Linked DNA regions of Homo sapiens: region 2 is linked to region 1. The links come from fine-mapping of genetic effects on gene expression. A gene starts in region 1. The other region holds a variant in brackets. All regions are shown on one strand. Distances are from middle to middle.

Region 1 (4,251 bases):
GGACCCTGGCAGAGGGCAGATCCCAGTCTCCCTCCTAGTGTATCTGAGGAGCCCGGGGGAGAGGCAGAGGCCTGGGCCGCTGCTCAGCAACGGAGGTCACGGGGCAGGCCCAGAGTGCCAGAGTGGATGAGGCGAGCAGCCCCAGCTGCAAGCCTGGCAATGGGAGACAGTCTCCAGAGCCTTCGTTTCCCTTTAATCTTGTTACCTGGAGAGTCAGTGGGACACCCAAGAGGTCCAGCCTCTTTTCGGGCAGGATTCATATCCACTCTCTCCAGCTCCTCCCCATTTAACAGCACACACCTCTGGGGATGGAGTGCTTGCCCTGGGGGTAAGAACTCAAGAGAAACTGCCCAGGGTGGGACAAACTCAGTTCAGCAAGTTAAAGCAGGTTTGGCCAAGCTGGAGGCAACCCCATGTTGAATTGCTTTCCAGCCCAGGAAGCAGGAGTAACCTGAAGCAAAGGTTACAGTTCTGACCTGGGGCTAAGGAAGGCCCAGCTAGTTGGCCAGTTGCTATGGTTATAGAGATTATTCAGATCACAAATCCCTGAAAGATTCTCTGTGTCCACCTCTCAGGGGACAAAGGGCACTGCCAAAAAGAGAAAGACTTGAGGTGAACATGTTGCCTGGGTCACTCCCAGTCTTCTAAAGGAATCTTTGGATTTTCAAAATACAGAGCCTCCCCTCAAGTCCTGCCCTTTCCTGCCCAGTCATCCCCCAACCCCAACCAGAAGCCCAGACTCGCCTTTAGGAGCCCCACCCTCTAAGTTAGCTTTGGTGAAAGTACAACAAACGCAGGGCAAAGGTGTGTATGCGGGGTGTGGTTGTCTTGGGGCAGGGGACCCCTGTACCTTATGCTTCTGGGTTTGGCTGACTGAGCTGATCCCCAGACTTGGCTGGGTACGTGACTGATTCTACGCGAGACGGTATGTGATTTGTGTCAGCATTTGCACGCGACAGCACAACTGGCTGTCGGTACAATATGATTTTAGGTGACTTTGAGTATGTAAAGGAGCCCCTGGATACACCCAAAGTGTGTGAGCATGTGTGCGTGCGGGCTGAGGGACAGGACCTCTTGTCCTCAGAGCTCTCCCGAGGCTATGGAGTCTTAGAGGGGTGCACAGTGGGTGGGTCCGGTAAGCAGGAAGGTGTGGCTGCTTCTGAACTGCCCTCTTTATGCTGCCTTGGGAAAGGAGGGTTAGGGTAGGGGTGAGGAGCTGGAGCTGGGGGAAGGAAACCCCTCCCCTCTACGAGACCCTTCCCGGTAAAAAGCCAACCCAAAGGGAAGCCCTTGCCTCTGCCCATCTTGGAGCTGGTTTGATAGCCTGCTCTAAGCTCTTGCCTCCCCTGGGGTCCTACCCCTGCACCCCAGACACTGCCTTCCAGAGTCCCCTCCCTTCAGGAGCTGCCTGTAGGATGGGATCAGGGTCTGAGCAGCCTGAAAACCCCAAGTAGGGTTGCTGACAGGGGTGCCATTCAATCCCCCGGCCCAATCCCAGTGGGATGGAGCTGGTCTCTGCTCCACAGCTCCCACCTGTAGCCCCCCAGCCTTCCCGAACCCTCACACCTTTGCTCAGCGGCAGCTCCGCTCCGCTCTCCTCTCTGCACTGCTTCCCAGCTCCTCTCCGAGTGGTCTGCCTCCTCCCTTTTTCAGTCCTCGGTTCAGCCCTATGAGTCAAACAGGTGGCACTGTTGCCACCTACAGGAGGCTGTGTGGGTCCTCTCCCAAGGCCTGCAGCTGCTCTGTGGCCTGGGCACAGCCCGGGTGGGAAGATGGGAGGGAGGAAGCGGGAGGGAGAGCAAATCTGCTTCTTTACTCGCTGGCGGTCAGGGGGCTTGGGGTGAGGAATTCCTTTGTGCAGGCTTTCCCATCCCTCTGTCCCTCCTCCTGTTCCCCTCCCAGTCACTGCCGGGGCTTTGTCCTGGCTCAGGGAGGCGAGGGCTGAGGGCACAGGCTGGCGGGAAGCTGGTGTGTGTGGGGGGGGGAGGTGACCACACAACTTTGCAACTTGGCAGTGAGGAGAAGAGGCCCAGCCAGCCCACTGGAAAGGCGTGTGTGTGTGTGTGTGTGTGCGTGTGTGTAAGCCTAACATCAAGTCTCAAGCTCCCTGGAAATACAGCCTTGATTCATTAGGCTCCCTCCCCTATTGAGCTCCTACTTCTAATTCAGCAAGGTGCATGTATAAGAAGCTGCAGCCTGGCGCGGTGTCTTACACCTGTAACCCCAACACTTTGGGAGGCCGAGGCGGGTGGATCACCTGAGGTCAGGAGTTCAAGACCAGCCTGGCCAACATGGTGAAACCCTGTCTCTACAAAAAATACAAAAATTAGCCAGGCATGATGGTGTGCACCTACCAAAGACTAGGTAGTTGCATGGGACATCTCACAAGGCCAGGTTTAAAGCAAAGACAAGCCTTGGTCATTTGTCCCAGCTACTTGGGAGGCTGATGTGGGAGGATTGCTTGAGCCCAGGACGTCGAGGCTGCAGTGAGTTGAGATTGTGCTACTGTGCTCCAGCCTGGGCAACAGAAGCTGCAAGCTACTTCCTGAACTCTGGATAGCAAGTTGCCGTTTCTGGACCAGAGGTCCCCATGGGCCTTGTGGATCCTGGGTGACACTAGCAGTTCTCCCACCTTCCCTCATCACCCCAGACAGGAGATGCTCATTCAGGACTTGTGTCATTTCTGCTGCCTTGTCCCTAAGGCATATGAGTCTCTTTCCAAGAATCTTTTGAGGAGTGTAGAGTATATTGGGGTCACAGGCTTTTGGAAGATGAACACATAGAAAAGATGCTGTTACTATAGCATCAGCATCAGCAGGGAAGGGCTGGCTAGCACACTATAGTTTGCTTAGTGCTAAAGCACAGGGGTCTGGGTGGGATGGGGGCCAGGGGCTGGCTTGGTTGACCTCTCCCTCTACATTACGCCTGATGTGGTGACTCGAGGTCTGGGGGCTATTAGTGCAGTGTTGGTGGGAAAGGATGTTTTCTCTGGGGATAAGCCTGCTTACCCCTCCCCCAACACACACTGGATTTCAAACAGTGAGAAGGAAGACTGGCTCTCTTATGCCAAGAGCTGGCCCCCCTCCCACTCAGGCTTCCCATTGTATCCAGAGGCTCTAGTTGGCAATGGCAGAGGCTCCCTTGCTCCCTCGGCATTAAAATGCAAAGAGAAGCAGGGCTGCTTGCTGGCAGGAGGCCAGGGAGGACCAGCAGGTCACCTAGTCCATGGCAGGCTTCATTCTAGGCAGATTGTTGCTCAATTTCTTTTGCTTGGGCTCTGGTGGATTCTAGAGGAGTCTTGGCTTTTGAGTGTTTGGGGATGGTTTGGGAGCTTTTTTGGGGAGAAGGGTTTTGGGATTCAGAATGCATGGATATGAAGCGCAGGGCTTGTGAGCATCTACCTCAGAAGGCTACAAGGCCAGTCAGCAGCTTGTGTATGGCATTCCAGGGCTGGCCCCCTTTTAGCTTTAAGCAGAGATAGAGAACACTGATAGACTGTAAGGCGTAAGCATCTTTCAAAGGAGAATGCAAGGAGCCAGTGCTGTTCTGTCCTGGGACTGGACAGCAGTGTGGTGCAACGCCCCTCCTACACTAAGAAATTAGGCTGCAGGGCATTAGAAGTGGCTGCTGCTGGCACTCTAGAGAGTTGGCTAGAGTGAAGCTTGGATGGTAGCTCTGCGTTCAGGTCCTAGCTCTATTGCTCACTAGCTTTGTGACTTTGGGTAAGTTACTTCTTTATACCCCAGTTTCCTCATCTGCAAAATAAGGACATCTATCTATGTTGACCTTTTTGTGTGTGTATGAAGAACAAATAAAACTGTAGCAAGAACATGGAGATGGTTAGTAAATGCGGTTTCTTCCTCCCAAATCTGGAAGCCAGGCAGGTTCTACAGTGGAGGTCAGGCCACTGGCCTTGCTAACGCGATTCTGATTTCCTAGGGTAGCAGAGCAACATAAAGACACATCACACTCCACAATACCCTCTGGGAAAGAGGGCAGCTACAATAAGGCAGGGAGGCTCAGGTACTTGTAATGAATCCCCTTAATAGCTTCCTCAGGGGCTGAGGAACACAGGTTGAAATTTTATTTCTCCCTCTAGCACAGAAGGATCTTCCCAAACAGTAGACGGGCTAAGGTTTATTTACTTACTTAACATTTAAAAATAATTCATTTGCTTCAACAACATGGCAGACAATCAAGAGTACTATTGAAACATAATTCAGAGAGGGTCAGGACAGGAAAGATCACAAC
Region 2 (4,251 bases), 21 kb before region 1:
CCCCGCCACCCCACCCCGGCACACACACTACAGAGCTGCTTGGACAAAAGAGTCCGTCCTTCTCAGCAGCCTCTCAGCCTTGCTTGGGACATGTCTCTCGCCTCCTTCCTCTCCCCTCCCTTGCCTGTCAAGCGCCTCTCACCAGAGACAACACATACAAACACACACTCACACACACACACCAGGCACACGCGTGCACACTCTTGCAGCCACATGCTCACACACATATACATGTAGCCACACACACAAACACAGCCATCCCTGCAGCCTCCTCTACAGAGACCTCTCCACATTCAGAGTGACATCTCCACACATCCATGTGCACATTCACACACAAAGGGACTGGGACGGAGAGGGACTCATGGCATCAAGGGATGAAGCTCAGCGAGCCGGGCACATGGGCTCCTCCACACGGATTCACGGCAGCTCCATTGCCTTCCTCCACACACCCCAACATACATACACACACATATGTCCCCCCTACGCAGAGCACCATGCCCCCTCCCCTCCCCTCCGGTGGAGACACACACCACACACAGCCCCCGCAGAACCTCCCGCCCCCTGCCAGACACAGAGACATTGCCAAACCCCCACACTGAGACAAACCCAATTCCCCCACACAGGAAAATGTGCCCCTCCGCCATGCCCTTACCCCCTGACACACGGCTCCTCCCAGTCTTCTAATGGAGACCCCCAAACAGACACACACAGGGAACCACACATTTCCCACCGCCTCTCTTTGCCCAGCTGCAATGCTAGGGCTCGGGGTCCACAGGCTTGGAGCCCCAGCGACCCCTACTGCATCCCAGGCCTCTAGGCCCCCACTCTCCAGCCCTCCTGGGTTGCCCCACCGCTCCCCCCTCCGCTGGTCCATACCTGCTCATACCAGTCCCGGTTGGTACAGGTGCACTCTGGCCACCAGCTGGGGCCGCTGCCGTTGAGTTTGGGGGTGCTCTTGCCCGGGACTGGCTTAGGAGGCACCGGCCCCACATCCCGGCCGGTGGGGATGAGCTTGGCCTTGGTGCGAGGGGTGGGGGTGGCCCCCGCCTGCGAGGGCAAGGTCTGCGAGCTGTAGCCCCCATAACCCGCGCTGGCGCCGTTGCCCCCACCTGGCCCGTAAGGGTCGGGGACTTGCCAGTCGCCGTAGCCCGGAGGCTCGAGGCGCCGCAGGGCGGCCAGGCGGGTCACCTCATAGCACTCAGGGCACTTACAGCAGTGCTGGTGCTTGTGCATGGCACTGCCCCCCGCGGCTCGGACCCCCCAGCCCACGCCGGATTCCACGCCGCCGCCACCGCCGCCACCACCGCCGCCGCCGCCGCCGGGCTCCCTGGCACACTCACACTGCTCGGACCAAGAAGGGGGGGGCACCCGTGGGGGCGCCCGGGCTGAGCGGGGCCTGGGGCCGGGCGGGCGTCCCGGGGCCTCGGCCCCCACGCTGCCCCGCACCCACGGCTCCCCCTCCAGCACTGGCGGCTCCGTGTCGCCCGTCGTGGCTTCTGGGCCGAGGCCCAGCGGCAAAGAAGAAGCGGGAGCTCAAGCAGAGAATGGGTGCTGTGAGGACCGCTTCTGCTCTGGTCCCCAGGATGGATCTGAGTGGAGTCAAGAGCATCTCTCCCTGGCTCCCTTCTCAGTTGATTCCAGCCAATCAGCGCGCAGAGGCAGGCAGCGGCAGCGGCAGCGGCGGCGGCAGGAATGCTAAACAGCGGCTACTTAAAGGAACAGAGGCAGCGGCGCCCCCAGGCTCAGCCCCAGCTCCCCCAATCTCTAGGGAACTGTTGGC[T/C]CTAAGGGCGGGGGCAGAGGACGTGGGCCACCAGAAAGCTCAGGCACCCGATCTTGTGCCCTTATATCGCCAGTTTTAGCCTGTCCTCTGCCCACTCCACCCCACCCCACTTCCAAGAGGGAGTTGCAGGGAGATGTTCAATGGGTCCCCAGGCTTGCTCTGAGCTGGGGCCACCAGAAGTAAAGACGAGGTAGCAGGATGGACAGAAAGGACGTTGGAGCAGGGTGAGGGAGGTGCTTTCTCTTACAGGGGACCAAAGAAGAAGGCAGCATATGAGGCCCGCTGTCCTGTCAATGCCTCCTACACAAGACTATTGTTCTCTCAGTCTCTAGGCCCTGAAATTACTGTGACCTCACACTTGACCTTCTACCATCACCAGTAAAGAACTCAACCCTAGAACAGGGATTAACAGAAAGCTCTAAGTCCTTGTCCCTGGCCCACAAACCCCTATCTCCTCCACTCCACCCCTGCATGGTTATGATGGGGGAAGGAACTTCAGGATATCAAGATGAAAGTCCAGGACAGGTGAAAAGGTAAGAAGGGATTTGAAGAGAGAGAAACCCTTCTATGGGTCTGGAATAGAGCTTAGGAATACTTGTCCAAGGACATCTCCTTACCCTCTCCTGGCTCAGCTTGTCGGGGGAATGGAGGAAGGATGACATACAAGAAAGACTATCTTTTTTGCAGTTCTTGTTTTGTTTTTAGCTACCAATTATTGGGTCTTTACAAAGTCCTAAGTGCATAACACGCAAACCCAAATCCTACCAAGCTGATGCTATTATTATCTTCATTTTACCAATGAGAAATTGAGGCTCAAAGATGTTAACACAGCTAGGTAACACAGCTGGAAGTGACAGAATCAGGATGCAAATCCTGATTATTTGACTCCAGAGTCCACGCTGTGAACCACTCTAGTACGACAGGTCTATTCTAAGTTCTCCTGCAGAATTTACATCTCAGTTCAATTCAGCAAATATTCATTGAGCACCTGCTCTGTGCAAGACCTTGACCTAGGTATTAGGGATACAGAGGTTCTTTTTTTTTTTTTTTTTTTTTTTTGAGATGGATTCTCATTCTGTCACCCAGGCTGGAGTGCAGTGGCGTGATCTCAGCTCACTGCAACCTCAGCTTCCCAGGTTCAAACGATTCTCCTGCCTCTCAGTCTCCCTAGTAGCTAGGACTACAGGCTCCTGCCACCACGCCCGGCTAATTTTTGTATTTTCTTAGTAGAGATGGGGTTTCATCACGTTGGCCAGGCTGGTCTCGAACTCCCGACGTCAAGTGATCCACCCACCTTGGCCTCCCAAAGTGCTGGGATTGCAGGTGTGATCCACTGTGCCCGGCCCTCAGAGATTCATTCTTAATTCAACAAATATGCGTGGAACACTTGCTGTGTGCCAGACACTGTTGTAGGATTTGGGGATATAGCAGGAAACAAAATAAAACAGAACAAACAGAACAAATCCCTGCCCTTGGGGAGCTTACCTCCTAGTGAGAGGACACAGACAAAAATAAACACAATAAATAAGTGAATTATGTAGTACAGTAGGTCCTCATTTAACATCATTGGTAGGTCCTTGGCAACTGGGACTAAGTGAAACAACGTATAACAAAACCAATTTTACCACAGGCTAATTAATATAAACAAGAGCTAAGTTCCTACAGCATATTTCTGGTCACAAAACATCACCCAGCTTCCAAATAAAGACCCAAAACACTTCTGATATTGAACATTGAAATAAATATGAGCTATGCATACATATAGAAAGATTAATGAAAACAAGTAAATAATTACCTAACCTTTGGTGAACCAGTGAGTGACAGCAGTGGAAGTGGTGGTGGGTTGAATCAAGGAATAAATGTATGCAAAGCGAAAATTGTAAGGAGCACCTCCCTACCACCATGCAGTTCAAAAGCAAACAATCACGAATATGGTGAGCTCGATGAGCACTTTCTTACCTCATAGTTTATTGTGCATTTGTATGATTATCAACTACTTGACAAATTTTTATTTTACAGTACTTTGTATCCATCCATCCATCCATCCATCCATCCATTCATTCATTTTTCAATCTGCTTATTTCAGTTCAGGGTCAAGGGTGGCCACAGCCTATCACAGCAGCTCAGGGTACAGGGCAGGAACCAATCCTGGACAGGATGCCATTCCATCACAGGGTGCGCTCACATACACACCCACACTCACTCACACTGGGACAATTTAGACACGCCAATTCACCTAACGTGCACTGGGATGTGGGAGGAAGCGCAGTACCCTGGAATACCCGAGAAAACCCACACATACATGGGGAGAGTGTGCAAACTCCACACAGACAGTGGCTCTGGCCAGGAATCGTTTTAGTTGTTTTTTTTTCCCCCTCATCAATGTTAAAACAAAATGATGTTGAAGAAAACAACATTATTCAGCATATACACCTGCTGTGTATATGGTGATAAGTGCCATGGAAAAAAAT

Alleles and levels. Positions count from the first base shown, and alleles are read on the strand shown. Sizes are in standard deviations (SD) of each study's normalised expression.
As copies of T replace C in region 2, the expression in visceral fat of the gene that starts at base 1,635 in region 1 goes up (small effect, 0.19 SD a copy in GTEx).

Evidence for each region. PIP is the estimated chance that this variant, and not a neighbour inherited with it, causes the effect.
Region 2: its variant is the best candidate, but not a certain one, in a credible set for the expression of GDPD2 in visceral fat (GTEx, PIP 0.81).

The regions. Positions count from the first base shown.
Region 1 is chrX:70,420,698-70,424,948 of GRCh38, reverse strand. GDPD2 (glycerophosphodiester phosphodiesterase domain containing 2) reads right to left here and starts at 1,635. Exons shown (of 16, transcript NM_017711.4): 1 at 1,567-1,635. It overlaps KIF4A (kinesin family member 4A), which reads right to left. Exons shown (of 31, transcript NM_012310.5): 31 at 4,063-4,251. RefSeq lists enhancers at 692-1,680, 1,681-2,669.
Region 2 is chrX:70,442,184-70,446,434 of GRCh38, reverse strand. DLG3 (discs large MAGUK scaffold protein 3) reads right to left here and starts at 1,600. Exons shown (of 19, transcript NM_021120.4): 1 at 877-1,600. The coding sequence starts at 1,233. RefSeq lists an enhancer at 1,296-2,082. The variant T/C (reference allele first, on the strand shown) is at 1,781.